3 separate regions of the Homo sapiens genome follow, and regions 1 and 2 are each linked to region 3. Evidence: fine-mapped expression QTL. A gene starts in region 3. Each other region holds a variant in brackets. All regions are shown on one strand. Distances are from middle to middle.

Evidence for each region. PIP is the estimated chance that this variant, and not a neighbour inherited with it, causes the effect. A credible set is the group of variants that fine-mapping cannot tell apart.
Region 1: its variant is the best candidate, but not a certain one, in a credible set for the expression of PCDH1 in whole blood (INTERVAL, PIP 0.81).
Region 2: its variant is the best candidate, but not a certain one, in a credible set for the expression of PCDH1 in whole blood (TOPMed, PIP 0.76).

The regions. Positions count from the first base shown.
Region 1 is chr5:141,940,481-141,950,761 of GRCh38, forward strand. It overlaps PCDH12 (protocadherin 12), which reads right to left. Exons shown (of 4, transcript NM_016580.4): 3 at 8,952-9,103; 4 at 3,101-5,325. The coding sequence ends at 4,901. It overlaps DELE1 (DAP3 binding cell death enhancer 1), which reads left to right. Exons shown (of 12, transcript NM_014773.5): 12 at 1-1,567. It also overlaps a transcript of RNF14 not described here. Among named protein-coding and RNA genes, the nearest start is that of PCDH12, 13 kb to the right of the region's middle. The variant T/C (reference allele first, on the strand shown) is at 5,204.
Region 2 is chr5:141,851,494-141,861,774 of GRCh38, forward strand. PCDH1 (protocadherin 1) reads right to left here. Exons shown (of 5, transcript NM_032420.5): 4 at 5,759-5,978; 5 at 1,597-2,943. The coding sequence ends at 2,549. Among named protein-coding and RNA genes, the nearest start is that of PCDH1, 22 kb to the right of the region's middle. The variant CAAG/C (reference allele first, on the strand shown) is at 6,091.
Region 3 is chr5:141,874,782-141,885,062 of GRCh38, forward strand. It overlaps PCDH1 (protocadherin 1), which reads right to left and starts at 3,629. Exons shown (of 5, transcript NM_032420.5): 1 at 3,442-3,629. The coding sequence starts at 3,481. RefSeq lists enhancers at 1,927-2,611, 2,878-3,627, 7,657-8,539.

The DNA of each region.
Region 1 (10,281 bases), 66 kb after region 3:
TGGCCAATTCAAAGGCAAGAAGATTTGAGGGGGGAAAGTTGTCCACGTTTCCCTCTCTGCTTCCCACCCCATCTCTCTCAACTTCTTAGTGGTCCTGCCATACTTTCCTAGCACCTCTCTTTCACCCGGGGAGCCCAAGCGTCCTCTAGCTCCATCTCCTCGCCTGCTCCCTGCCTCCTTTTCAGGGCTGCCCTGCACACTGGCTCACCACTGTTGGACCCTGCACATGGCCACCTTCCACAGATGGCACTCCTTGGGAGCAGGGTCCTTGTCTTTGTATTCCAGTGTCCCCAGCACTGAGTGCAAGGCCCCATGCAGGGTAGGAAACCTGAGGTTTCAAGCTCAGGGTTTTAAGCTGTGCAGTGCACTAAGCTCTCTGCCAAAAAACAAACAAAAAAAGGTTTCTGTGGTTAAATAAGTTTGGGAAATGCTGCACCAGACGTCCCCTTTTTATAGATTCACAATACACATCAGCATATTTGAGGTTCCAAGAAGTCCTCCAGTAAAGAACTTGGTTAACCCAATGTTTTCTCTCACTGAATTGAGCCCAGAGCCCGTTTCCCTACAGATTGCTTTTGAGCCTTCCTGGGGCACCCTCTGCGTGAAATGTCACCGTGTGCCCTCCCTGTGGAGCCCCACTCCCCAGCCTCCTCCCCTCTGTGGTCATTTTGGATTTTCTGACTACTTCCTTCTAGCCATAGCTGGGGCCGAGGGCTGGTTCACAGTCTGGCCACTGGGCGTCCTGTGGTGAAGGCCAGATGCAGCCCTCCCTGAGTGGCTCTCCCTCCCACTCAGTCACTACTGAGCTAAGTACTGATTCAATTTGGGGTGCCAAAGGTTGGGGGTAGGATATTTTTAAGCTCTCCAATTTAAAAAGGAAGGGCCTCTCCTGTGGAAAGGGAAGGATGGCAGAGTCGTGAGAAAGGTGTTGTCAAGGGACCAAAAATCCTTGGCTGTTCAGTCACTGCGGTCTTGATCCAGCCCCAGGGGGATGGGCTTCACTGGCAGAGCTGGGTACTGCTGTGCTTTTGCCATTAAAATTCTGTTATTAATGACTCATCATCAGTGCCCCAGAGGAAGTGTGAGAGGACGAGAGGGAGGTGGCTCCCATCAGCAGGGCCAGCCTGGGTCAGGATGCTGGGTTAAAGCCCGGCGCCCTCACCAATGAGACCTTTGTGGGAAGCTCTACTGCCTCAGTTTCCCTATCCGGAGATGCTGTTTTCAGGGAGTCCTGACACTATGATGGGAACAAGGCTATTTGGTTTACTATATCATTAGTGCTAATATAGTGTGGGGCACTCAGATGTTCAGTAAATATACATTCAACAAATAAGTGAGTGATTATACTCAACTCCCCCCACCCAATGCCCAGCACCAAGCCTACCCAGCACATAGTAGGTACTTTAAGTAATTTGAATGAATAATTTTAAATAACTTGAATGAATAATTCTGTATTGCCCCCCACTCGCCGCCTATACACACGCACACACGCACACACACACACACGGTTTCCTGTGCTACTTCTGGCACTTAGTAATTATTCAATAAACACAAAATGTTTGTTGCATGAGTGTTTCTGATCATGTCCTACTCCTCCCACGTTGTACCCAAAATTTAGTAGGAGCTAGAAAATGCTTATCTATTTTCTAGGTACACACTATGTGCCAGGCCAAGCCTCTCCTTCCTCCTGTCCTCTCTTTTTTGGGATTTGGTTCTCTCCAGAGTTTCAAAGGTAGTGGTTGCCACATCACTCTTATTTCAGCCAGAGAAGAGGCAGCGTCAGTGAGCTGCCAAACTGAAGTTGGGTGACAGACAAGGCAGCTGCCTGTCAATCTCTGAGCTGCCTCCAGGCTCTGAGTGAGCACTGCATTGCACTCCTGGTGCTGGAGAACGGCTGACTATTGATTTAAAAAATGTCCCTCTATGCTTTCCAAATTAGGACGACATGTAACAGTGCTTGCTGGCTCGCCTGCTCCCTCAGTCTCCCAGGGGACAGAGCCCATCTTGGTGGAAACTGTTTTGAGCGTGTCCAAAGTCTCAGCTTTGACATCTTGGCTGATGTCAAGAAATTTCTGTAACCTTCCTGTTCAACACACCCAGTTCTGTTACCATAGACACGGTCTCACTCTGAGCTGTTATTGGGAAAGGTGCTGGTATCAGCTCATCAGGAGGGGACACATGGTGCAGGAGAGAACACTGTCCCTCACGTACATACACCCCCATTCTGATCAAAGTTCAGAACAGGAGCAGCTCTACGCAGGAGTTCTCCAGGTTCTGCAGGGAAGGCAGGGCTGAGGGCTGACCTAGAGGATTGTAGTGCTTTCTAATCTTAATTGGGCCCGAAATCTCTTTGAGAATCTGATCTAAGCACCTACTTCTTTCCATAGAAAAAATGCATATCCTCCCAATTTTGCATGTAGTTCAGTAGGTTCATAGATCCTGAAGTCTAACCAAAGACGTCAGATTAAGAATCCTTGATGTATTAAAAAGACCACCATACTAAATCCCAGATCCAAATCCTGATTTGAGCAAGCACTCAGTTAAATGTCTTAATTTGGAAAGCTCTCCCCCACAAACCTGCCAGGTGGCCTTGGGCAAGTCATCTGCCGTTTCTTTCTATATTCTTGGCTATAAAATGAAGAGTTGAAATAGATAAAGTTCAGACTCTTTATGACAACTGCCCATGTCTGTGGATGTTTAGATAGTATCTTAAAGCAATGCTGTGTAACCTTTTAAAGGTCAAGGTTTCCTTTGAGAATCTGATGAGAATTTTGTATCTTCTGCCTAAAAAAGTGTCTAGACACAAAGTTTTACCTAGTATTCAGGGTGCCCAAGGAGTACAGATTTAGGGCTTTTGAACTAGAATGATGCAATGGTCCCATGTGTCTAGTGATCCAGTTGCCAGCTATAGCTCCAGCTTCCTCAGGTCATCTCCCCCTGCCCACTCTCTTCTCTCCACCCTCCCAACATCTGCTCTGCACTGAAAATCTGCTGGTAACTGGGAGGTCACCATGGTCTACTCCAGTACTGTGGTTCTCAGACTTTGCTTTTACATCACAGAGTCTTTTTTTCTAATGAAGTCCTACCTGGAGCTCCAATATGGATAAAAGGGGCCTCTGAAGCATTTATTGACACATTTATTCATTCATACATCCATTCAACAGCTATTCATCAAGTGTTGCTTTGTAGCAGGCACCTGGCTGGTCAGGCTGGAGACCCTGCCTGCCTGCTTGATATCCCCCAGTTTCTCTCACTGGCCCACAGAACCCAACAGTTCTGTGATCCAGCCTGAAAATCACAGATTCTGTAAGGAGATCACTCTGGCCTAGAGTGAGGTGAGGAGAAACTCTGCCCCTGAAACTCATAACTTTGGGGAGCCTCATTTTCTTCATCTGTAAAATGGAATAATGATACCACACTGTATTCCAAGTATGTATGATGCACATTATCCCTAGTTGGGAGTATGATTGGCCCATTTCTTGAACAGTGAACATGAGCACTGAGCTCCAAGAAAGGACAAAAAGAGGAGCAGATAGAGGAACTTTTGCCTGCAGTGTCCAGGAGAGACCCACACTATTTAGAAGCTAGCTGATTGGCTGCTCGGAAATTTCCAAGAAAATTATAAAGCTGAACCTTGGGAAAATATCTGCTGTTTCTTCCCTCCCCCATCCCCTGGAAGGCTGGCTGCTGTCAGTGCCGATTTCATAGACCCAGTTCACACAGCGTCCTCTGGGATTCACAAGCCTGAACCTGCAATGACAGAGGAAGGTTTACCCGCAAATGGGGTTGGGAAAGATGACATCCGCACTTGAAGAGCTACTTGTTGGGAAAGAACGGGTCTGCATCAGTTCAGATCCAAGTTCCTTTTGCCTTGTGCTTGGGAATGTAGAGAGGTGCGGGCCTGGATGGCTTTGGAAATGTTCCTTTCAACAGTGTTTCCCGAGGGAGCTCGAGCAAGTTCACTGCTGCCAACAGCTCACCTCCAGGGCCTTCCCTTCTCCTGTCTTTGGTTGGCAGGCTGGTGTCAAGGTTGAAGGCATGGGTTTTGGTGTTGGCCCAGCCTGGGTCCAAATCCTGGCTCTGGCTCTACTCCCTGCTTGATCTTGGGAAAGCCACTTGACCTCTCCAAGCCCCATATCCGTGTCTGTGAAATGGGGTTAATAATACCTCCCTCCCAGGATTGTTGGAAAATCAAATTAAATCCTATTGTAAAGCCTGGTGCCTGGCTCATGTAAATGCTTTATAAATAGTTGTGCTTTCTTAGCTCTAATTTTGCAGCTGAGAAGCAGATTAGTTGGTAACATAGTGATAGGGGAACAGGGGTAAGAGCACACATGTCTGCTATTTGTGTACCTGTTACTGTGTACCAAGGTGCCCCACTCCTGTCCAGGCCCAGTGTGACGGTCTTGCCAGGGATTGGATGACAAATAAACCCCACTCTATTACTCTTCCCTTCTCCCTCTTGACAGGTGCAAACAGGAGAATGAATCACTGCTTTTCCTTTATTGATAGGTCAGAGAGCATTTCCTGGCACCCCCAGGGTACAGCCCCCTGACTCCTGCTACCCAAGAAGGCCACCCTTTCCTGCCTGTGATACTCCGTGGCATCTGTTCTGCCAGAGGACTGACCCTTTGTGCTCCACATATGTTTTGCCAGGAAACACTTATCTCAGCCACAAACCGTCCCTGTCCTCCAAAAGACTCAGAGCTGCTTACAAGGGGCTGCTTTGGTCAGTCAGCTGTTAGTCCTGGGGCTCTTGCCTCCTCTGTGGGGGTAGCATCAGTCACCCTAAAGTTCTCAGGCCGCCGCTAGCTAGTGAGTTACAAGATTTTAGAAACCAGCTCTTGTCCACAGATCCTCAGGCCCCTGGTTCTTGGATCCAGAGGCGTCTGAGGTATGTTCACAGGCACCTGCTGCTGCTGCTGCTGCCTCTGCTCTTGCCCTCAGTCCCCGTCTTTCCACCTGGGTCCCCTTGCACTTTCATGCCTGAGGCTGCACTGGTGGCCAAGTCTAAACTGAGGGTCCTCCCGCAGACCGAGAGCCGCCGCAGCGCCTCGGAGGCGGCCTCCACGGGCATGCTGGAGCGCTGTTCCAGCAGCATCTCCAGCAGTGAGCTCATCTCCGAGACAAAGGTGCTGGCCAGCCTCGTGCCTGTTGGGCTCAGCTCTGGTGCCTCTGCCTTGCCGAACGTCTGGAAGGTCCT[T/C]GGCTCCTCCGTGGCTGCAGCATCCGGGGAGATCACATTGTCACGGTAGTTGGTGGTGAGGGGCAAAGAGAGTCTCGCCATCCAGGCCGGGTCAGGGGCGCTCAGCCGGTCCAGGGCCAGACCTGTGGGGGAAGGAGGGGACACAGTGAGGGCCAGGCTCCGGGAAGGGCCAGGCGGGTGAGGGTGGGGCAATGAGCAGGGCAAGGGCAGTGGACAAAGGAGGGAAGGGAAATGGCAGGGGACAGACAGAGTGGCCAGACGGGGACAGGAAGGAAGAGGCCCTGACAGGGAAGCTCCCTGGGTAGGAAAGCAGTCGACTGACACACCCGGGCGAACCAAGTGGGGAAGCAGCAGGAGGAGGAGAAGGCCTAGAAGTAGAAATTTGCCGATTTCTGAAGAATTTCCCAATCTGGGCGTGTGTTTCCAGTCTCAGTGTCTTCTATATTTCATCCAGGATTTTTACCCCTCAGGGCGCCTTCTCCCCTCAGGGCTCCACTAGCTGAGGATGGAGGGAAAATCCCTTTTCTTTGCCAAGGCTGGAGTTCCTGACTTAGCGCTGCCTTTTTTGGTTCCCATCCATAATAATAGGGACCACATATTAGGTACTTACGTGATGAGCAATTTACATAATTATTTCATTTAACTTCACAAACCTTTGAGGTCAAGAGTATTATTCCCATTTGATGGATGAGGAAACTGAAGCTGAAAGAAGTTAAGTCACACATCTGCTAGGCAACCAAACCTCAATTTGATGCCAGGTCTGATGACTTTGAAGCCTATGATGGCACCACCCTACCCTCTCTCTGAAGAGCTGGCCCTTCCTCCCCCTGGATACTCCAGGTGCCCAGCTGGGGCCTCTGGAATTCCCAGGCTACCTAAGGTCTGCACTGTTACCACCTGGCCCCAGATCCTCAAATCCTCCTCAACATCATCTCTCAAGCTGCTGGAACCCTGGCCTAGAGTCAGGCTGGGGAGGGGCTGCCTGTCCAAGGGCTGTCCCAGGAGAGGGACTGGGGTAGTGGCGGTGGCAAGTCAGCCTGGTGGCTGGGAATTCAAAAAACTGGCCCCTACATTTGCAATGCCACAGTCACCCTTCTTTTCCCATCCCTTTAACAGAAAATCCTGTTTCAAGAAACCAGTCCCAGGCCTGATGGTAGAGACCAAGCCAGAGGAAAGAAATTATAAGTCTTGGAGTTAAGAAACAGTGTCTTAAAAAAATTAAAAAAAAAAAAAAAAGCACAACATCTACTTAACATTTATCTAATGTTTGCCTAAGGTGAGTTACTTTAAAATCTGCGCACAGAATGAAAGACTGGAAGGAGATATGTCAAAATGTTAACTGAAATTACCTCTGGGCAGAAGCAATCCATTCTCTTTTTGTTTATCTATGTTTTTCTATATTAACCAAATATTACTTATGTAATTTGAACAAGTTATTCCGAAGTATGTGTAGTCATTTATTGTACTGATAAATGAATCTCTGCCCTGCATTCTGGACTGTGCAGCTTGTGAGACACTGTTGGGCTCCTGCCCTACTGGATCCTTGGGTTTAGCCCCATGCCTGGGACTTAGTGAATGTTTGTTGAATGATTGAATGAACATAAATATTAACCTTCAACATTTGGGAAATGCAAACCTTAGTTCCTTGAGACTCTGAGGCTATAAGGTTGGATGGAACTCTTGGTGTTATAGAATCAGGCCTTTCCTTTTACATGGGTCAGAGAGCTTCAGAAGGAGTGAAGCTTGGAATGAGAAAATCACTGGGGCGTATGAGAACAGCTGAAAAGTGATGCTGAATTCACCCAGCATCACCCACCAGTTCTAGCTGCAGGTGGGCACTGGGCCAACCTGGGTTTGATTTCCCAGCTTTGCAGCTTAGGGGCAGTGTGTGTGACCTTGGGAAAATGGCTTAACCTCTCTAAGCTCCCGTTTCCTCTTAGGAAGTGGTGAGACAGTAGTACGTATCTTGTGGAGTTGTTGTGAGGTTCAGTGAGTTCATGCAACCAGGAAAACATTATCATGGTCGCATTCTCAAGTGGGGCAATCTGAATCCGAAGCAGCAAATCTGAAGCAATCTGAAGCAGATCTGAAGCAGCAAGATCCCAGTCTCCCCATGGCAGTCCAGCCTGTGAGCAGCAAAGGCTTTTCTGCCCCTCCTCTTTCCTTACCCCCAACTCCTTACAGTGCCCCTGTGTTCAGTACCCTTTGTGCTGTGGGCAAGCAGGACCGTGTGGGAACTGACCCCACAGGTTCCAGCCAGAGCTGACCAATAGAGATAGAATCCAAAGCTATATCCCCCAGCCATACATAGCCAGTGAGCACTTGAAATGTGGCTGGTATGGCAGAACTGAATATTTTATTTTATTTAATTTTAATTCACTTAAATTTAAATAGCCACTTGTCGCTAGTGACTACCTCATTGAACAACACAGCTCTAAAATTTACAGCCACACTGCCTGTGTTAATAACCATCCACGAGCTGCACAACCTTGGGCAAATTATGAAACACCCCTGACCCTCACATTTTTCCTTTATGAAATGGGGATAATGAATAGCCCCTATCTCATAAGATTTTCTCATGAGGTACTTAGAACAGGGCCTAGCACATAGAAAGTGCCCAATAAACATTAGCAATATTTTTTAACCAAGGAAAGAGAAGTCCCTGCCATACCTTCAGTGTGTCTGCAGCCAGATGGAGCACATGAGAAACAGTGTTAACTACATAGATAGAAAACCACAGCACAGGGATGGTCTGCCGTGGGGTGTGTTACCAAAGGAGGCTGACCAATGTCCACAGCAGGGGCGGGGGGCGCTAGCAGATTCTTGAATTCAAGTTCACATTATGTATTTATTGTCAAAGCTAATTATTTCTCTGCAAAAAAATCTTTTTGTTTTCATTGCAATTGTTAGCATATTAAAGAGTTGACCTGGTTCCCAGGGTGAAAGGGTATTGAAACACACCAAACGCCAATGAGTGGTAAGAAGTCCATAGAGGACAGGCTGGCTCAGGGTTTGGCTCCCCTTCAATCACTGGTGAGCTGGGTGACTCTGGGAAGGCTACTTGATTTTTTTGAGCCTCGGTTTGCTCATCTGTAAATTCGAGGTAATAATTATCTACTTGAGGGGATTGGTTGGAGGCTTAAATGAGATCATGTACATAAGATGCTTCCCCAGTGCCTGGCATGTTCACTATTTTTACAATGATTTTTAAAATGAATAATCAACGTAGGCCAGGTGCCTACTTTGGCTTTGATTACAGGTGGCTCATGCCTCTAATGCCAGCACTTTGGGAGGCTGAGGTGGGTGGATTGCTTGAGCCCAGGAGTTGGAGACCAGCCTGGGCAACAGGTGAATCCCTGTCCCTACAAAAAAAAAAAAAAATCAAAAATTAGCGGGATGTGGTGGTGGTGCTCACCTGTAGTCCCAGCTACTTGGGAGGCTAAGGTGGGAGGATCACCTGAGCCCAGGAGGTCAATGCTGCAGTGAGCTGTGATCATGCTGTGATCATGCCACTGTACTCCAGCCTGGGTGACAGAGCAAGACCCTGTCTAAAAAAAAAAAAAATCAAAGTAGAACCTGGTCTTTAAAATACTTTCTGAGGCTGCAAGGGTGCAAGGGAAGTTAAATGTTGCTGATGTTCCTCCACAGAAACAGAATGGCTTTTCCCTGCAGTGGATTGGAGCAGAACTCTGAAGCTTGGACACCATGGGGCAGAAGCAGGGTCAAGGTAACTCCAGGGGGTCCCTACCTGTGCTGGGGTCCAGCAGACTTGACAGCTCTTCTTCTAGCAGTTGCTTCACAGAGAGGTCCTCTTCAGGATCCAAAGGCCCTTCCTCCTGTTCTGGGTCTGTCTGGCCTCCAGCCCTTGCACTTGGGCCATCTGTGTCTGGGATTGCACTCCTGCAAAAGAAACCAACCAGTCCATGGGTAGGGACATTCCCATATAGATTCATTCATTCATGCCCATTCATGTTTGCATTCATTTACCCATATAGGGAACTGGATACACAGCCTGGCCTCTAGAGTCAGACCAACCTGGATCATGTGATTCCCGCCCTCCTCTTACTCTGTTTCCTCATTTGTAAAATGAGAGTAATAAATAACACCCACCTCACAGGGTGTTGTGAGGGTAAAATGAGACGTTGTAGGTAGAGGGGCCTACCACAGAGCCTGGCACATTGTAAGCACTCAGCAGACAGAAGTGAAGATGAGTTCATTGATATCATTCTCGTTGCCCCTCCCATGTCTAGGTATTGCCTGGCACACAGGAGGAGTTTAGTAAACCTCAGTGGAGCCAGTGCAGCCGTCCATCCGTCCGTAGGAGAAGGCTGGGATTTTTGCCTGTCTCATTGCCTGCTCCCTTACTGATGCTCAGAACAGGGCGTGGCACACAGTGGGTGCTGAATGAGTGACTGAACATTCCTTCCTCCCTACTTTAGGCCAAATCCTAGGCCAGAAGAGCAGACCTATGGAGGGTGCAGCCGGAGTGAGGCAGCCTAAAGCTGCTCAGAATCTGCTACCTGCACCCCAGTCTCCTGCTGTCTCCATCCTGGTCCCTCTCTCCCATAGACACTTGGGGACAGGCCTGGACCCTCATCCCAGCAGGTGGGAAGGCTACCTGAGGGGTTTTAAGGCGTAGGAGTCCTTCTGTTTGTTTGGTTTTGTTCCCCTGTAGCCATTTCTGCTGCTGTGAAGAAATGAGCAGGGAGGTGGCAAGTGTGTGGGTGATAATGACAACTAATGTTTTTGAGCAGTGAGTCTGAGTCAGGCCTTATGCGATGCAAGGTCCATGCACCGTCTTATTCAAACCTTCCACACCTGTAAGGGGTTCTCTTTAATCAACCCATTGTACAAATGAGAAAACCAAGACTTGTGAAGATTTTGCAGGTTGCCCAAGGTCCCCATAGATTAAGAGATAAAGCAAGACTTCAAATCCAGGCCAGTGTGACCCTGGAGTGTGTGGACTCACCCCTGCAGTACACTACCTCTCACCATCCTTGTAAAAAGAAGCTGTAAGTTGTCAGGGCAAGAGCACTGATGCAGGAGTCAGGAACTCTGAGAGCTGGTCCCAGCTTTGC
Region 2 (10,281 bases), 23 kb before region 3:
AAGACACAGACTGGGTCAGGCTGGGTTTGAGGGGGGCTCTCCTCTGGCCAAATGTCGCCTATTGGTACATAAAACTGTACGCGACACAGGCATTGGGGAGGGGCTTCACAGACCTAGGACCCACAGGGATAGTCCCCAGTGCTGTCGCCAACCCCTGCCCACCTTTGGTTTCATCTCTCCAGTGCCCAGTTGGTGACAGACTCAGTGCCCTGGCCCCAACCAGGGGGCTGGGGGCTCTGTCTTTGCCTGTGGGAAGGGCTTCTCAGCTCTCCCAGCCATCTGGGCCACCCTCTTTCTTCTGGCTTCTCCATTGTGCAAAATGCTCCTCTGCTCTTCTGCTCAGTGCTCAGGGGTCTCTAAGACCAGGGCAAGGTACCCAGGCCACTAGGGGCTTCCAGTGGGAGTCCACTGACCCCAGGAATGCCGCCTGTCTGGACCACCTTCTCCACCAAGCAAATGGGCCTCATACAATCTTCTTGCCCGAATCCTGACCTCCAGGACCCAGGACAATCCTTGAGGCCACTGTTCCACCAGCTGGGCACCCAATACTACCAACTCCAAGACTATTGCACCTGCCCCATTTGTGCAGGGGAAAGGGGCTGTCTCTTTAACAAGCCCCAAGCCCATCTCCTGGGCCTCCCCAAGGGAAAGGAGCCTTTGGCCAACCCCTAGACCTGGCTGCTGCCACCCCATCCCATTCTACCCCTTCCCCTCTGTAGAAGGGCTTCGTATGCCAGGGCTACCAGCCTAACAATGCTCTCCTTCCTAGCACTGTCACCCCAAGCCAAGTTGGGGGTAAGGGGCAGATAAATAGGGTGATTCTTCAGGCCCCTGGCTTTTCCGGGGTGGGGGTGGGGTCTCTGGGGTACAAGAGTCAAGACCCCAGCAGCACAGCTCCCAAAGGCACCAGACGACCCCGCAGCCTGTACCCACCGCTCGCAATCTTGGACCACCTCCCCAAGCTTAGACTAAGTCAAGCAAGGGCCATACCCTGAGTCTCCAGCCTCCCAGCCTGGGCCCCTAGGGAGCTGGAGAGGTATGGGCCAAGGCAGTGGGGGTTTCTGGAAGGAAGAGGGGCTGAGGCTTTGAGATGGCCACAGTGGGAGACGGGGGCTCTGCAGGACGCCCCTTACACCCTGGCCCCCTGAGGTGAAGAAGAGAACTTCACCTCATCATGGCTGACTGGGCTTCTCTGCCCCCCAACCTCCCTACCCCCTCCCCCATGGGACCCCTGACCCTGACAAAGGGAAGCCCAACTGGAAGAAGGGGGCCTGGAGCCCAGGGTGCCCTGAGGCAGCCCTCCCACCCCCTGAGATCAAGGCAATGGTGGTTTTACAGGCTGACGGGTCAGTCATGGCAGGGGCTGGGGGTTGAGAGGGCAGGGAGGGGGCAGGATGCAGGCCCCCTATATCGGGAGCAGCACCCAGCCACCCCCTGAGCAAACCTTCCTGCTCCCAACTCACCCAACCAGGCCAGAGGCACAGTCATCCCACCCCTGTCCAGCTGCCCCCCACAGCCTCAGGGCCCCTCTGTGATGCTCATCTGGATGTGGGAGGCCAGCCTGAGCGGGGATCCCCCCAGGGCACAGCGCAACAGTTCCAAAAAAATAGAGATTTGTATTTTTAAGAAAAATTAAATAAAAGCCCAGCTCTGCTGATAGGCAAATGTTACCCCCGTCCCCACCCCCACCCACCCGTTGTTTCCCTGGCCTGCACCCCCATCCCACCATGGCCCCAGGGGTATTTACAACATGGAACAATAGAGGCCTGGGTTGGGGGGCACTGCGGCAGGGAGGAGGGGGCACAGGGCAGGTCCCCCCCCAGAGGGGTCCCCCAAGACAACACGACATCAACAAGAAAAGTTGCAAATCAGGCAGAAATGGGGACGTCATTCCAAGGTCCTTATATACAGACACTGCATGACCAGCAGGGAATGGGGGCCCAGATGGGACTAGGCGTGGGCATGTGGCAGGCAGGTGGGCCAGTCCAGGAGCAGCACGGGAAAACAAGGCCTCCGCTCCACTCCCACCCCCGTCCCTACCCCACCTTTGGTAACAAAAGCCCTTCAGGGAGCCACTGGTGGTCAAGAGTTTCCTCTGGGAGCTCCCAGGGAAAGGGGCTCCCCAGTTCAGCCCTGCTTCAGGGCTAAAATTGGGCATGCTATCCCCGCCCTGGTCGGCCATGAGGGAAACAATGAGTTAGAAGTACGCTGCCCACCCTTGACTCCACCATCTGCCCAAATCGAGGGGGTGCTCCCTGGAAGTCAAGGGAAGGAGCCCAGTCATTGCAGAGGAGCCCTCTTGGGCATCAGATGGGGGAAGCCCCATAAAGGGGAAGGGGCCCCTGGGGGCTGGGAGATGGAAATGAGGGGAGAGGACCTGGACCCTGCATGGGAGAAGGGCCAGCGTGGTCATGAGGTCAGTGATACCCCCACTTGGGGCCCTGGCCAGGAAGTCCACGCTGAAGGGGTGGAGAGTGAGGCCCTGGAATGGGCCATTTGGGAGCTGGCCGGCGGCTGGGGGAGGGGGGCCGGCCGGCCAGTAGGGGGCTCACAGGTAGATCTCGCGCTTGGCCGTCTGGGCAGATGCCGGTGTGGCTGCGGGTGGGAAGTCCGAGGTCTGGGTCAGGGGGATTTCCTCCAAGGTGGCCGAGTCCTTGCAGGAATCATGGCTACTGTGGGAGAAGGCACTGTAGGAGGGCAGGAGGCGCACGGGGGCCGTTTTGGTGTTCCGGTCTTCCGGGGGGCTGGGGCTGCCGGCGCCCGCAGGCTCCTGCCCTCCTCGGTCCTGGTAAGGCACGAAGGTGGAGAGTTTGAGGGCGCTGCTCTTGGTCCGGCGGCTGGGAGATGACTGGCCAGGCATCCAGCATGTGTCAGAGTGGCCAAACTCACTGCACTCCCGGGTACATGTGCCTGTCATGGCGACATCAGGCAAAGGGCGAAGGTCTGTAGGAGGGAGCGGGGAAGGACAATTGTCAGACATACAGCCTCTGCAAAGCTCTGCTTCATGGCCTCCCACTGGCATCTACACCCCACCTCAGGACAGGAGTATGCGCCCCTTCCTGACCGCTGAACTCACAGGCACACACACCCTCAAAGAGACACATGCCCTCCCACCATCGACCTACTGGCCTACTGTACACACGCACACGCACACACACATAATCTATCTTTTTTCTTTTTCTTTTTCTTTGTTTTGAGATGGAGTCTTGCTCTTGTCACCCAGGCTGGAGTGCAATGGCGCAATCTCGGCTTACTGCAACCTCCACCTCCCGGGTTCAAGCAATTCTTTTGCCTCAGCCTCCCGAGTAGCTGGGATTACAGGCGCCCACCACCATATCTGGTTAATTTTTGGATTTTTAGTAGAGATGGGGTTTCACCAGGTTGACCAGGCTGGTCTTGAACTCCTGACCTCAGGTGATCCACCCACCTTGACCTCCCAAAGTGTTGGGATTACAAGCATGAGCCACCGCACCCAGCCTTATCCTTTTTTTTTTCAAGACAGGGTCTCACTCCTGTCACCCAGGCTGGAGTGCAGTGGTGTGATCTTGGCTCACTGCAGCCTCAATTTCCCAGGCTCAGGCAATCCTCCCACCTCAGACTCCCAAATATCTGTGACTATAGGCATGCACTACCATGCCTGGCTAATTTTTTATATTTTTTTGTAGAGATGGGGTTTAAGCCATGTTGCCCAGGCTGGTCTTGAACTCCTGAGTTCAAGCAATCCGCCTGCCTCAGCCTCCCAGAGTGTTGGAATTACAGGCATGAGCCACCAAGCCCTAAATAGACACATTCCTTCCAGCGTCACCTACCCCCCAGTGCTCTTCTTACACACCCACCAAATCTGCCCTCAGACAGGTGCACAAACACACACTCATCTACACACTGCCTCATCTATCTCCAGACAGACTTAAATGTGCAAATCTATCCTCAGGTGGGGTTGAGGAAACCTCCATCCTCATTGAATTGATTGACACAATCAACTCTCTCTCTCTCTCCCTCTCACACACACAGATAGGCATGGATACACAAATCTACTACAGTGGGCACCTCTATCCTCAGATGAAATTGGGTACATTGCTTCCTTCAGAACCCCCTCAAGCTTCACATGCTCCCGGTGGTCCTGAACCCACCCTCCTCCTGCAAGACCTTGCTTTAAAGCCAGGGGGAAGGGACGAGCTTCTGTGTGGGGTATTCACATAGAGGCACACACTCACATCCACAAGCACGCTCATGCAGCCCCTCCCCACCTCACTCTGGCCCCTAAACCAGCCACCACCCCTGGCCTTGCCCCAGCTCCCTGCCCAGAACACCCACGGGAACAGGAGTTGGCTGCCTGACATCAGCAGTAGCCGGTGTAGTTGCTGGGCAGCGGGGGTCTCCATGGGAACGGCTGGGCCATGAGTACTTCCTGTCACAGCTGTCCCTGTCCTGCCCTTGCTCAGGGACAGCACCAGGCAGTGACCCCCCCCCACCCCCAAGGGACATGGCTAAGCAACACTGCCTGGGACAGGGGCTCCCCTGGCACCACCCACTATGGCTTGGCCTCCTGCCAGTGCCAGGTGAGGAGGGGACAGCTCTGTTGTTAACCCTCAAAGTGCCAAGGCTCTACAGCTCAGAGCAGAGTTGGGGGACGCAACATGGCTCAGAGCAGAGCATGGGCACTGGGTGGGTGAGGCTGGGTGCTGGGCAGAGTCCCACAGACCCCAGACCCCAGAGCAGTTCCCACATACCTGGCACTCTGCCTCAGGGCCTGCTCCGGCCAGCCGGCTCTGCGCGGGCACAAAAAGGATGAGACGGGCATGAGATCGCGCATGGAGGGGCGGGGTGGGGGTGGAGGGCACTCTGAGACCTAGGGCCTGGGAGGTTAGACAAGGGCCCGGGAGGTTAGACAAGGGCCCTGTGCCTGAGGCAGGGGAGTGAAACCTCCCATCTTTTGTGGAGCGAGGAGGCTTTGAGTTGAGGGAGTGGGTGGGACCCGAGGACAACTCCAACTTAGAGAGTCTTTCCATCTCAGGGGTTAGCTCGTTCACTCTCCCCCTCCACAGGCTGCCATGGACGACTTCACACATGCACACGCACTGCACACACACTGACGGCACACCTCACCATCCATTCCCATGCCGACCTCTGCGCTGGCTCACACCTCCTTTTTGCCATCACCCTCCAAATCCCTCCCAGACAGGCCTTTCTCTTCACCAGACCTCCTACCGCGCTCTTCCTCAAAGAGGTGCCAAACCTTCTCCCACTCCTCACCCCAGCATATCGTCACTCCATTCTCTGAGCCCCCTGTAGCATCCAGGGCCCAATCTCTATTCTCAAGGCCTTCCCAACCTTAGAGGACCACCACCCACCTTCTCAAGGTTTCCTCACCATTACGTGAGCTTTCTGGCCACCACACTCAGGGTCCCTGTTCCCAGGTGGCCGTGTAAACATGGTGCCGAATGCAACAGCTTTGGAGTCAGAGAAACCTGGGTTTGAATCCCTCCCAGGTCTGTCACGTTCTAGATGTATGACTTTGGGCAAGTGACTTAACCTCTCTAAGCCTCAGTTTCCTCCACTGTAAAGTGGGTGCCATAAAGTTCTCAAATCACAGAGTGGTTCTGGGGATTAAATGCGTGTATACCTGAAAGCCCTCAGCACGGTGATGATGACTGAGCACATAATAACTCAATACATAGATGATTTGTTTAAGGCCTTGTCACCATTCCCAGGCTTCCACTCATTCCTGGGGTGCCCTGACCATGGTGCTGCGCCTCACCATTCTCGGGGTGCTCCATCTCTCCTATGCTGCCATCAGGGGTGGTGCGCTCATAGTGATCCTCAGGCAGGGCCAGGGGACCGAGTCGAGGCCCTGAGGATGACTTGCTGGACGGCGTCTCAGACTCCTCCAGGCCACTGTCATAGTAACTGTGCTGGGATGGGTCCTGCAGCTCCTGGGCCTGGCTGGTGGCCGAGAAGGTGACGCGGCGGTGAGGTAACTGCAGGGAGACAGATTGTCACTACTGACCAGCCAGCTTGCCCACAGGGCCCACCACCATACCAGGCCCTAGTACAAGCCAAGCACCATCCTACTCAGGCTTCAACAGCAAC[CAAG/C]AAGAGACCCAGGCCCCAGCACAGCACATTCCTCCCGAAAGCACAGGCCCCAGTGAAAGACAGCTCCTGAGTTCTAGGACCGCTCCTAGTACAGCCAAGTCCACATACTGGAAGTCCCAATACAGCGCAGGCCCCAGTGTTATTATAGCCCCTATGCTACCCCAATAACCCTCATCCAGTGCAACCGCTTGTTATAGCACAACCCTTCTAGTTCTAACCCAGCTTCCCAATATTGGCACAGCCTCCCTTTAATCCCAGAATGACCTGTAATACGGTGTAGAGCCCAATACCAGAGTAACATAATACCACCCGACTCCCCTAATTCCAGCTCAGCCTCTAAACACCAGCATAGCCTGCAGTTTCTAGAACAGCTTCCTAAAAGAAGCAGACTCCTAACTCCCAAACAGCTCACCAATACCACAACAGTTAGTTCCCTCATTTCCAAACAGCACCCTCCAAACTCCAGCTCCTCACCTGTCTCACTGCTCTTGCCACTGCCTCCTTCCAAATGAGGGAACAACCTTTCTTTTCTTATCCTGTGTTCCTCATCCCTGGTTTGTGATGTTGCAGCAGTCTGAAGACTCCCTGCTGTCGCCCCTCCCACTCAGCCCCCCATCCCCACTTCACTCCCCTCCAGAGAGGCCTGGGAGTGGAAAAAAAGGGAGGAGCCTGATAACAAACCAGGGCACCTGGGGGAAGGGGACAAAGCAGAACAATGGAAACTCCCCAGTCCTCCCGATCAGGAAATAGAATATTCACTGGAGAGGGTAGGGCTCTGCCAGGAGCCTGGACATGGGGAGAGGGCATGGCACCCATTAGGGATTAGGAAAGCTGGTCTCAAAGGGAGACTCCTTCCAGGAAATAGGAAGGAGCTTCTGGGAGGGCTGCTGGCATGAGGAGCCAGACTTGGAGGCTTGGACTGGGGACTGGGGGTCGGGGGAGTGGAACCGTGACAGGCTGCTCCCAGCCAGCAGCCCTGTATGCCTGCCACAGGTTAACGATCAGCCCTGGAACCTGGCAATCTCAACTTGGCACTTGGCACAACCAGCCAGCCACCCAAATACCCACTTGGGACTGCCACAGATTTTCCTGCCAACCAGAAATTAGGAGTTGTGGAGGGTGCAGACTCAGGGTCCCTGGAGGCCAGGGGTGAAAACAGCTAAGCCCAGGGCCCTGCTGATGAGTCTCTAAGCTCCTTCCCATCCTCCAAGACTTTGGCAGTGCTTTGTCTTACTCTATAACTCTGGATAGGAGGTTATGAAGATGGCCAGGGGAGGTGGCCCTGGCTTTGTAGACTTACCCTCCTAATAGCCCCATTCAAGGCAGCTAGGGTGGAAGAGGCTGTCAGGACAGGAGTTTTGGAGCTGCTGTGAAGGTAGCCCAGAACTGCCTCCCCACTATCCCCATTCCTGAAGATGGCTCCCACCTCATCTTCAGGAATAAGCGACCGTTCTTGGAATCCTTGTATTGATCTAAAACACTGAAGGGTCTGGGTGATGACTGATAAGGTCCCCAAAACTAACATGGATGTTTGGGGCCGGGAGGCTATAAAGGAGTGTAGTCCACCTGGTGTAGGGGTGATTAGGGTCCAGGAGGGGTCTGGGAGGCACAGGGCAACATGGTTGTTGGTGCTTCTCTTTCCAGTTTTCTTTCAAGATACTGGCCAGCAGTCCCACCTCCCTGCAGAACCCATATCTGGTAATTGAAGGCTTTGGTCCTGCCTACTAAGCAAGTCGCTTGGTCTCTTTTCCCATGATTCTTTTCCATAAAATGGAGGGTTGGGTTATACCCAACACTTAATGTTCCCTCTAATTTTATGACTATCAAATTATAAAAGCCCAGATCAAAAAATCTCTCTCAAACTCTTTGAGTCCTGAAGCTCTAGACACTTGCTGATTATTTCCAGTTGGCTCTGCCTACTGGCCCTTAAGATTCAACATGTCTGAAACCAAATGCTTCTTCAATTAGCTTCTGTATGGGCAATGATCTCATCACTATCCTATCACCCAGACTCAGAAGGCTGATGTCTACCTGAGAATCCTGGTAGCTCTCCCCTCATTCCCTATCCCTACCTCATATCCAATTATCCCTTGAATCCTGTGGGTCCTTTCTCCCTAACCTTTGCCAAATCCATCCATCCATCACCCCCATTGCCACCATCATAGTCCAACTCTTAGAGGTTCAGTCCTGTACCTTCATCTCTATGCCCTTTTAAGCCCACCATATATTCCAGTGCTCTTTCTAAAACTCAGTTCATCTAAAACACTCATGAGCTTTCAGGGACTAGTTCCTTCTGAAGAACTTTTGGTAAGGCACCTATGTCCTCTACAACCTACAGTTCTTCCAGTCTCATCTTTCAGCTTTCTCTTATGCCCCTCTTCTTGCCAGAATATTCCTTTTTCTGCCCTTTCCCTGCCTCCAACTTGGTTCACTTCTGCCGCAGGAGTTTGCTTACACGGTGACCCTGTGAGGAGGCAGGGGACCCTCCTGCCCTAATCCTGCTCATCATTGACAAGCTGACTTTCTCCTTCCAGAAGCCCATTTCCATGTCTTGTACAAGTTTTCCCATACTGTGCTCGTCAAAGGAAGGGAGGGGCAATATGGTGAAATAAATTCAGAAAACTCAAGAGGTAAACAAAATTGGGGCCAGGCACGGCAGCTCACACCTGTCATCCAAGCACTTTGGGAGGCTGAGGTGGGCAGATCGCTTGAGCCCAGGAGTTGAGACCAGCCTGGGCAACATGGCAAAACCCTGTCTCTACAGAAATTACAAAAATTAGCCAGGTGTGGTGGTGCACGACTGTAGTCCCAGCTACACAGGAGGATCGCTTGAGCCCAGGTGGCAGAGGTTGCAATGAGCCAAGATTGCGCCCCTGCACTCCAGCCTGGGTGACAGAGCAAGACCCTGTCTCAAAAAAAAAAAAAAAAAAGGTTAAACGAAGTCTAACAGGTTCCCCCTTTTTTGGAGGACTCTGCAGAGCCTTTAATAGGCTAATGTGATCATGAATTTCTTACTACCAAAACTAACTTCACCACAGAACGCCTTTTTTATAGCATAATAGGTAATAGGAGACCCGCCTGCTTTGTGTTTGAATTTGGCTGCATCACTATTTAGTTTTCACTTCTGCAAAATTAATATTAAAATGACCCATATCATAAAGAGTTATGAGCACTGATTGAACTAATTCACACAAAGTGCTTAGCATGGTACCTCACACCTAGTAAGGACTCAAAAAATGGAAGTGAGTGCCGGGCATGGTGGCTCATGCCTGTAATCCCAGCACTTTGGGAGGCCACGGCGGGCAGATCGCCTGAGGTCAGGAGCTCAAGACCAGCCTGACCAACATGGAGAAACCCTGTCTCTACTAAAAATACAAAATTAGCTGGGTGTGGTGGCACATGCCTGTAATCCCAGCTACTCAGGAGGCTGAGGCAGGAGAATTGCTTGAACCTGGGAGGCAGAGGTTGCAGTGAGCTGAGATCGTGCCATTGCACTCCAGCCTGGGCAACAAGAGCAAAACTCCATCTCAAAAAAAAAAAAAAAAAAAAAAAAGGAAGTGAGCAGTAGCAGTAGAAGTAGTTTCATGGAATAAGTTGGGAAAAGCTTTAGTAGGGCACTTCTCATTCGACTCAAGACACTCAATTGCCTCATCGTTCACTTGTCTGTCTTGTACAAGTATGGCCATTTTTTCATCAGGGTCTAGTACCATGCTGAGTACTCAGTGGAAACTTGGCCTGTGTGTGTTGATGATGACAACAGGTGGTGTGGTTTGGTTGTATCTGAATGTTGGGAGAAGACATTCAGTGTGGCTCCATGGATGGGTTAGGTTGGATTAGAGCTGAGTAAGAGACAATCCCTCAGATCATGGGAAAGAAAAAGAGATGAAGACGCTAAAGGAATAGGAGAAAGACGGAAGGAATGCCAGAAAGGACAGAAAAGGAAGAGAAAGAATGGGAGGTCAGGAGTTGCTGGAGATCACGATATGGTTAGATCTCACTTCCCCAGGCCCCACTCCTCCAAGGACCCAAGGAGTTTTTACTTTGGGGGCCCCCCAGGGCATTGGGGGAATTTGTGGATGGAATCAGAGGAGAGAGCTGGAGCCTTGGTCCTCTTGGGAGTGTCTCAAGCCTCTTTAGTCACCATGGAGATAGGTTGCCTCTGGCCTCAGAGACTCCCCCAGGGCCTGA
Region 3 (10,281 bases):
TGTTACACAACGGTCACTGCCGCGGGCACAAAACACCAAGGGACAAACGGACTGTCGCGGGGAGAGGGGAAGAAAATGGGGTTGCGTGGGGTGGAGCTGAACAGAAGCCTCCCACAGAGAGCAAGTGTGCAGACCTCAGCTCCTCTCCCCTCTCTCCCACAACCCTCTATTAGCCTCTGCAGGGCTTCTGGGCACCTGCATGTCAGATCGTTGGGGTTAGAACCCTCGCTCCACCACTTCCTAGCTGTGTGACATTAACCAAGTGAATTTACTTTTCTGAACCTGTTTCCATACTGTGAAATGGAAATAATGAAACCTGCCTCTTGAAATTATTTGGGAGAATTAAATGAGATCTCATGCCTATAAGGTCTATTACATTAAGGTCTATTTACATTACATGTAAAGGACAAATCATTTTTTTTTCTAAGTCTTCTAATTGCTGAATAGACCATTTTATTTCCAGCATCGGGCACACAGTGGGTGCTCCTTGGTTCGATGAATAAACAAGCCAATCCCCTCGCTGGTTGGTAAGTCCTATGAAGGCAATGATGGTATGTCTCTTACTACTGCATCCTCACCACCCACCATGGACCCTGGCAGATAAAAGGTGCTCAATACATTGTTGAACAGAATCTCTGCACCAACTATCCTTGCTCACGGCAGGGGCAGCCCTCACCTTCTTCTTTCCCTACACCCCTCCCCGAACCCTGATTCCCACTTAGCTCCTCCCCCACCCTCGCGGCCCCCTCCTGGCCCTTCAACCCCCTTCTCAGCAATTAGCTTACTATCGCTTGCCCAGCTCCCCTGCAGAAGTAGCCACAGCAGCAGCCCCTCTGCTAAGAAGATGGCAGACCAGCAAGACACCCACTTCCAGCTGAAGTCCCTTTTGGAATTGGGAATTGGAGGTGGGTAGGAGAAGGGGTAAAAACTAAATGCGGCCAGAACTGAATCCAGACTTGCCTCCCTATCACACTGCCTCTGGCTACCTCTGGGGGCCAGTCTGCCTCTCCCCTCGATTCCACCCCATGCCCTAGTCTAGTTGTAATTACAGGTTCCAATTCCCCCAGACCTTAACGTCAATAAAGTAACACCCACCTACTCCCGCGCCCCCCACCCCCTACAAACACAGCTAGACCTCCGGCTTGTCATAAAAACTTTCTGGGCGGCCCCTTCCCTGGCAGCTCCCGAGGGTTGACCCAGAGCAGGTGCTAGAAGCCTCGCGGCGTCTTCCTGCACGAAGCGACCCAAGCAGCCCCAGTCCGCACCGCCTTGGTCAGCGGGCGCTCCCAGCACACACCCAGCGCGCGGAGCGACTCCTCCCAGAGGACGCCGAGTGTGTGTGTGTGTTGCGGAGATTAGGGGGTGGCGGGGGGGACGGCGGCAGTTTCTTGGGCTCTGGCGGCCCCACCCCCACCCCGGCAGCGCCCAGCCTCCAGGAACCCAAGGCAAGGCTAGGGCGCGGCGTGGTGAGAACGCGCTTCGGCTAGTGGGGGGAGCCCTTGCGCCCCCCGCACCCAGGCCACCGCGGGGAATCCCTCCTCCCCGGCATCTCCGGCCTCGGCCTAGGGTCCCCCGCAAGCCGGAGCCGGCGCGAGCGGCGCAGCGGGCGCCAGGAGGGGGCGGGGAGGGAGCCGGCGCCGGAATCACAAAGCCGCGAACCCGGCTAGGCGGGGACATTCTCATAAAACCGACCCTCTCGTGGCGAGCAGAGGGGGTTTTTTGCCCTACGCTCAATCCTCCAAGGCCTCAGTGCCGCCCCCAGTCTTTCCTGGCAGAAGAAATAGTAGCCGACCACTGTTGGGGAAACTGAGGCCAGAATTCTGACTTACAGAGGGTAGCTGGGGGGAAGGGGTGCGAGACCACCTCGCCTACAAATTCTGCTCCTATGCCTGCCGCGATCTCCGTTCTGGCTCCAGGGCCTGCCCGCGCACACACTGGCCTACAGCGGGGACCAGGCGGAGGGGGCGCTCAGGTGTGAGACGAACCCAGGTGTGCGGGACCCACCAAGGTGTGTGGGACCCAGGTGTGCTGGAGACCCAGGTGGCTCAGAAAACTCAGCTAAATGGCTGGAAGAGGGTCGCAATCACCGTCCCAGGCTAGCACCCTCTACAAAGGAACCTGGGGCCCCAGAGCTCCGGGGAGGCGGGATGGCTTGGCCAGCCAGGTCCAGCTTGTTCCCGGAACACCAGCCGGTTCGGCCCGGGAGTGGGGGTTGGGGAGGCGCCGACTGGGAAGCCGGCAGGCCGGCCCAGCCTTCCCGCTGTGCCGATATTTACAATAATAATGTCGCGATTAACGTGGCGGGGCGCTTGGGGCTCGCCGAACGACCCCGGCGGCTTCTCCTGCCTGAATCTGGACTCCGAGAGAGAGGAACGGAGTGTGTGTGTTTGTGTGTATGCGCTGCAGGGTGTAATGTAATGTGACACTGTTGGTTTAAGGTGTGTGTGACACCCAGTGTTAAGATGGGTGAAGCAGTGGATTCTGTGTTTGTGACCGTGAGGCGCTGCTGTAGGTGCCAATTCCTGTGTTAGAGTGTGTGCCATCAAGCGTGTGCTGAGATACTGGGTTGTGTGTTTGTGTGGGTGCAGTAGAGGGGTGCAAGGAGACCTGTGCTGTGTACCTATGTTCTGGCCAAGAAGTGGGTAAGATGATATATGCTAGGGTGTGTTCCTTAAAGGAATGTGGGGGGTGGCTAGGTTTTGAGGGTTCATCTAGTGAACTGTGGCTGTGACACTCGTACATGAGGGCACGAGATTGTGTTTGTGTGTCCACGTCGCGGGGTGTCACACCCGGTTGTGTTATTGCTCTGTAAAGCCACGGGTTGTGTGTCGGTGCTGCTGATCGTGCAGACACTGAAGCGGATTCTGAGCTGGCGACGGTGCCCCAGTGGGCGCTGGTGTGCGGGAGGTATGTCTGTGTGCACATATGCAGGGATGTATGTATGTGTGTATATATGTCCACGGTCTGGCCCTCTGGGTGCCCGCGAGAAGCTGGAAGCGGCTGAGTGAGCCGAGGTAGTTGCCCAACAAGTGTGTATGTATGTGTTGTGGACAACGGTCCTTGCTTGCTCCGTCCTCCGGGAGACCCCCACCAAACTGGGGGCCGCGCGCTTCCCCAAACCCATCCTCCACGCCGCGCGCTCCTGGAGTCTCCTTATCCCCGTCTCTCCGAGCGCGCCCAGGTTTGGGACGCGGGGACTAGGGTTCTGCTCAGCACCCCCTCCCCTCCCTCGGCTTCTCGCCGCGGACCTGGGAGGACGGAATCCCTCAGCCGCATCCCCTGCTATGGGCTCCCAGCAGCCCCCACCTCAGCCCCCTCGCGCCGAGCTCGTGTTGGGCCCCCGCGGCCTCGCTCCGCCGAGCGCCCCTCCCTCAGCTCCCGCCGGCCATGACCGCTTCGGGCCCCAAGCCGCTGCTGCCTCCACCGCCGCCGGATCCTTACCCGCCTCCGGGCAGCGCCGGCCGCCCGCCCCGCTGTCCATGAGCCGCCGCCGGCCCCGGCCTGGGCTGCGGCTCCGCACGGCTGGGGCTGGAGCTGCAGTTCGGGCTCCGGCTCCGGCTCCGGCTGGCTCTGGGCGCAGCAGCCCGGCGGCTTTGCGTCCGCGCCGCGCTCCCGCTCCCCGAGTGTGTGAGGCGGCGGCGGCGGCGGCGGCGGCGGCGGCGGCGGCGGCGGAGCCAGCAGAGAGCGGAGCGCACAGCCCGGCCCGCCCCCTCCCTCCCCCCTCCCTCCCGGCCCGCCCGCCTCCCCGCCCCCCCTCCGGCCGGGAGGTGGAGCTCGGGACCGCTCCGGTCCGGCTGGGAGGGGACCCCGAGCACCGCTCCCCAAAGCCTGGACCCCTCCCTCTGCCATCTCTTCACTGCCCGAGGCCCAGTACACAGGCCGTGCCCTCCTCTGAGCTTCACCTTACACTTATCCCACCCAAGCCTCCATCTAGGACCGCTCCTGGATTCCCCTCCTTACCCTACTCAAACACCTGTCCCCAGCTCTGTCTGCCCCCTGGGAAGTCGAGGCAAGGGAAGTGTCTCCCACAGCGCCTTCTTCCCTGGGCACCTGCTCCTCCATATCCACCCTCTTCCCGCCCAGATCCCCGATCGCCCTGTGTGGCCCTCCCTTCCCGCTGCGCTCGGGGAAAGTCCACCCCTCCCCCTCCGGCCGAAGCCGCAGAGCGGTCAGCCTCGGTGGCCGCAGCAAGCCGTGGGGGTGGGGCTATGGAGGGGACCGTGGGAGGAGGAGGCTAATGGGACCCGGGGGCTCTAGAGTGAGGATGGGGAAGATACACAAGCGTGAAGACGAAGTGCTGCTCCTGAGCTTAGGCTATTCGAGGGTCCCCTGATCACCTGCCCTCTGCACGGCGTAGTGCTGCGGCCACACGTATTTGCCAGTGACTTACATTATACAGTCACCGGGTCCCTGCCCCGCGAGGCCGCGCAGTGTCACGGCCTGTGTCACACGCCCTCGCAGTGCCACACGCTCCCTATCACACTCACACCAAATCACACACGGTGTCACACGCAGTGTCTCACACACTCCAATACTCGGTTTCTCCCATTCAGCTCTGGCTCTCTGGCGCCATCTAGAGGTCTCTGAGTAGCTTGGGAACTCCCTCTCCTGCGCTTGCGGTTTGGTAACCCAGGCTACCAAGTGTCCCAGTTCAACAGGACCTCCTGCCTTCTTCGCCTGCAGGCCCAGGCAGAGTGTTCTAGGTCAAAAGAATGAGGAAGGTTATCCCTAGCCAGGCCTAGTGCTGGGTGAGGAAAGGCTCTTGTTATGGGATGACCAGTTGTTGGGCCTCTTTTTGCCATAGCCTCTGACTCCCCATCTCTGTCCTTCCCCATTTTCCTGTTCCTACCACTCTTCTGTGCCTTTCCTCTTTCTTCTACTTCCTTCTCTTCTCAGCTCTGGCCTCTCTCGGTGGGATGCTCTTCAGGGTAAAAGTGGAATCTCTGGTTAGCTAAGAGGGCAAGCAAAGTCTGTCCAAGATCTCTCCCAGAGCAGCCCTGCTTAACTGGACTCCTTTTCTGACCTGGGCTCTGCTCTATCCCTCAGCCCCAGGAGCCCAGGGGCAGGGCTCTAGATGGGAGATGGGGTAATCTGGTGAAAGAGGGGGGTGGGTCTGTTCTGTAAGTAGCTTCTTTCTGTCTCTAGAAAGCTCATACTCTCCACATCATTGAGCACAGCTCCGAGGAGGGAATCAGTGGCCCAGAGAGAAGAAATCTTCCACAGAAGAGCTGCCCCGGTCTCCCTGCCCCCAGCGTGTGCCCGCTGCCCAATGCAGCAAACCCTCCCCAGTCTGCTTGCTGGGAGCCATTCAAAGGCTCCTCTGTTCTCCTCCCTTGCTCAGGGCTGAGCAGGATCAGCAGCCGCAGAGCTGGGCAGGAAATGCTAATCTCCCAGATGTTCGCCTCCATCCTCCCTGCTCCACCACCATCAAACTCAAATTCTGCACCAAGTGGTAGGAGCAGAACTGGGCCACAGCAGCAGCACCAGGGTGTGCCTACTCTTCTCCCTGCTCCCCAGCCCCTCCTACCCCAGCTGCCAGGCTGGGCTCTGTGCCCCTGAGTCAGGGACAATGTAGATATGAGAATTGGGGCCTTTTTTCCCCAGGAAAGAGGGCAGGTGAGCAAGCAGGGACTGGGAGGATGGTTGGGGAGCAAGGGAGGTGGCATTTGAAGAGGAGAGAAGTCAGACTTCTGGCCCTGTACCAAAGTGGGAGGAGGACCTGCTTGGCAAGTGAAGCACTGGGGGAGGCTCCTGAAACTGATGGTGCCTGAGTTCCAGCTGAGACTGTGGCCAGGGATTGGAACCAGGGTGATGCTGGGTATGGGAATGGTTGGGGTGCTTGCTGTGATATCCGTGTACCTGGGATGGGCTGTGGCTAAGTGAACTAGGATGCTGTAGGGCCTGGAACTGTAACACCAAGGCTGCTGCCTCTGATTGTACTTAGGACACTGTTGCAGTGCTCTGATGCTGGTGTGCCTAGGCTATAGCCAATAAGATTACCTGAGAAACTATCGCCAAGCTGTGTGTATATGGGTGTGTGTGTGCATGTTGAGGGAGAACTGTAACTGATAAGCTGTTGGGCCTGAAGCTATAGATATGAGGCTGGCACACCTGAGACTGGCTGTAGCTGAGAAGCTGTTCCCTGTTAATATGATGTAGATGGGACTGTAACTGGATCCATTGCCTAGGTCCTAGGAGATGAGAGGCTGTTGCGAGGAGCCTGTACCTGGGAGACAGGCTGTTACCTGGGATAGGAGCAGAGCTACTGTTGTGTATAGGACTGTAGCTGAGCTGCTATTGGTCCTGGAGCTGTAGCTGTGATGACAGCATACTGGGGATTGGCTATAGCTAAGATGCTGTTGCTCAGAATTGTGGTTGGGCTGTTACTGTGTGCTGGACTCTAGCTGGGATGCCTGCAGCTATAACTTTAAAGCTTGGGTGTAGCTAGGAGGCCATTTCCTGGTAATTTTGCTGGACCATTGTTGTGTGGGGGCTGTGGCTGAGACTCTATTGTTTAGGAGATGACAAGCTGTTCTGGGAGGCAGGATACTACCTGAGATGGAAGCTGATGTACTGTTGGAGCTGATCTACTGTTGTGCATAGGGTGGTCCCCAAGTGGCTGTTGCTGGGTCAGTGACGAGCTGGGTGGGGGAAGCCAAGTGAGTCCTGCCTTGAGGTCTGGGAGATGCCAGGAGCTCTAGGCTGGGTGGGGGCTGCTGCTCTGGGGAGGCCTCAGCAGCTGCTCTGCTGTGGAGCTGGAAAGCCTGTTTTCATTACTGTTTTAACTCTTTTTTTAACCTTGTTTTTCTCTCGGCTGCACTTTCGCTCACTCATTAATTTTGGTATTTTTCTCACGGTGCCTCAGCCCCTGTCACGGCTGCCATGGCAACAGGAGGCAGTGTGCTCAGTGCCAAAATATCTGATCAAAAAATAACCAAAATAAGCAAACACCAAGACGACTGTTCTGGGGACTATGGTCAGGGAGAGCCGATGGCTCAGATCCAGGAAACCCTAGGCTCCAGGGTACCTGTTTCACTACCCCTCTCCCCCAGGGAAGCTTTGCTGAACGTTCTGATAACCTAGAAGGCCCCTTTCCAAGGAATCCCCCACAGCACAATCTCCCAGGACTCTGAGATTTCCAATAGTTCCTGTCCAAGGGGCAGCTTTGCCTGAGGTGGGAGCATCGGGAGAGGGTGAGGGCTGGGGATCACTTCCCAGGAGCTGGCAGATGAAGCTTCTAAGAAGCTCCCTCCCTGCCCTAGCCACAAGCATCCGCACTCACTCATTCACCCACCCCTCTTCTGGCCCTTCTTGCCTTAGGCTTATCTCCCTTTCTGTGCACCCAACCCCCACTAGGCCACTTTTGTTTTCTCATAGCCCAACGTTCTGATGGGATGAACAGAGGGGAGGAAGCTGACAGTCTCCAGCCCCCTACCAACTCCTCAGTGGAGGTGCCAGAGAGGGGTACCATAAAAGTAGCTGACATTCCGAGGCCTCTGCCCACCTCTAGCTCACCTTCCTAGGGGAGATTCCTGAACATCCCTGACCACTCACACCGCACTCCAATTTTCCCTCCCACTTCTTGGGAGCCTTCTAGTTCCCTGGAGACCTCCTCTCAAGTGGGCATGTCCCCAGGAGGGGTAAAAGGATAGAGCCTCACATAAGTTAGAAATGGGCAGAGCTCTTGGTACTACCTGTCTCTTTTCCTTCTTCATCCACCACTTTCCCCTCTGAGGAGGCTTGTCTAGATGTCTGGAGCACTGGGAATTGGGGGAATGAGGAGGAGCCCCTCAACTCTGTCTCAGTCACATCACTTAATCACACCTCTCCTTCTGCCCCACCCCTCTGGCAGTGAAGGCTCACTCCCAACAGATCTCCACCCGCTTCCGGGAATGGCCAGAACTCGCCTCCTGCGTCTCTCTTTCCATTTCTATCTTCCCCTCCCCCCAAGAGCTGTAGTGGCCTTGGCCTCCTGGCAGTGCCTTCCCAGCCTGTTTCCATAGAAACTGGGTAGGCTGTGCAGTGCAAGAATCGGAGGGGAGACAGGAGCAGGAAGGAGGGACCAAGCCTTAGGGACAGCCCCCGATGAAAGGACCGAGAGAAACGGGGAGCTGCCCCATGCAAACTGAGGGTGGGACCCCGATTTGGGGAACCAGGCGGGATGGAGCGTGGAGTGGGGGGAAGAGGTAGCAAAAGCTTGGTAGCTGGCTTTGCTGCCTCCTGAGGAAGGGGCACAGAATCTCCCCTTCCCTGCCACAGGTAGTGGGGGTTCCTCCCTCCCCACCCCCTTAAAATCCTTCTTTACCAGGAACTGCCTGATCCAGATGAATCTCTTCTCCGGGGCCCACTAGTCTCTAAGAAAGGGACCATGGAATTCCTTTCTTCCCCGAAGAGCTCCCCACTCTCCCTGACCAGAGTCTCCTTGATCTGGAGGCTGGGCAGCCCCCGGGGACCCGGTGGCCGCCGCTGACCCCGTGGCATGCGGCTCTCAAAGGCCCCATTCATCTCTGGGGGCTGAAGGCGCCATTGTCCCCAGCGGGGGGTGGTGTGGGGAGTGAAGGGGTCTGGACTCAGAAGGAAGGAATGCGTCTGGAGAAGTTGCCCCCGGGGCTCCAGTCTCAAGGTCCCCACCAGATCTCCATCGGGACCCTTTCACGACCCCGAGCCCTTTCCCCAGGAGCTCCCAGCAACCTTCGCGCTTCTCCGGAGGGTGGGGTCTGCCGCGGCGCGGGGGCAGCCTCACCCCACCTCACTGCTGGACTCCGGAGAACCATTTCTGGGACCGGGAGCTGTCCAGCGCCTCGGGTCCTGACGGACCGCTGATTCGCCTAGGTGCCATCGGACAAGCGGGTGCTCAGAGCCAGCTCTGGTGGCTCGGGAGCTTTCCCCCAACCAGGCTAAGACCACTAAACCACGCCTGGCCCGGATGAGCTTGGATGCAGCTCCGAACGTGGGGATCCATCGGTGCTGAGAACTGACCTAGGGAGCACCTTGACCCCTGCCCTATCTGGGCACAATTGAAGGGCCAAGTGCCACCAGCCCACTTTCCTGGAACCCTGTCTCAGACTTGGGCAGGAAGAAGAGCCATGAGAGGTCAGGCCTTGCCTCTCCCCGCGTTCCCCATCTTTCTCTGTGCCTCTGTTTCTGTTTTCCTCCGGCTCTCCTCCCTCCTCCTCTCTTTCCTTCCCTGCTGGGTTGGGGGCTGCTGAATTATCATTTCTCAGCTCTGCTAATGTGCTCCCCGCTGCGGGAAGGGATCATAATTCTGGGAGATGATTAAGTTTCAAATTGTTTTTCTTTGTGTTGTTGAAGATGAGGCTTTAATATGGTCCTTCCTCAGCCCGGGAGCCTGCCCCCATTCCTCCACTCCTAGTACTCTCCTCACTAATAGGCTAGGTTTGGTACCATGTCTTTTGTGGTCCTTGCCAAACTTTTATGTGTATGGGGTGGTAAACGAGAGGGGTATAGACCTACCCTTTACTCAAAGGGGAATTTTTTTGTTTTTGTTTTTTTTTGTTTTTTTTGAGACCGAGCCTCACTCTGTCGCCCAGATTGGAGTGCAGTGGCGCCATCTCAGCTCACTGCAACCTCTGCCTCCCGGGTTCAAGTGATTCTCCTGCCTTAGCCTCCCGAGTAGCTGGGATTAGAGCTGCGCGCCTCCACGCCTGGCTATTTTTTTATATTTCACTAGAGACAGGTTTCACCATGTTGGCCAGGCTGGTCTCGAACTCCTGACCTCAAATAGTCTGCTCGCTTCAGCATCCCAAAGTGCTGGGATTACAGGCATGAGCCACTGTGCCTGGCTAGGAATACATTTAATATAGTGGTGAGAAACACTGGTTTGGAAGTCGGACAAGTCAACATTTAAATCCTGACTCTGCCACTTACTACTCAGGTGACCTTGGATGAGTTACTTGAACTGTCTGAGCCTCCGTTTCTTCATCTACTAAATGGGGATACTGTGAATTACCTCATGGAGTGTTGGTGAGGATTTAAAGTGATAAATCATGTAAAGTGGTTAGCCGGGTGTACAGCTTATGGTAAAACTCAGTGAATGTTAGTAGATATTACTACCCACATACCTTACCCTGTTTGATCCTGCTTCCCATAGCCTTCCTGACTTTGTTCTTCTGTTCAATGTTTATCTAATGCCTACTGTTTTCCAGGTACTGTACAATAGAGAGTAAGTTATCCAGGAGTGAGGAAGTTGGCTTTCTTACCTATTTGTTCCTCAAACACCCCTTCCTTTACCTCCTTCCTTCCTTCCTTTCAACTGAAGTT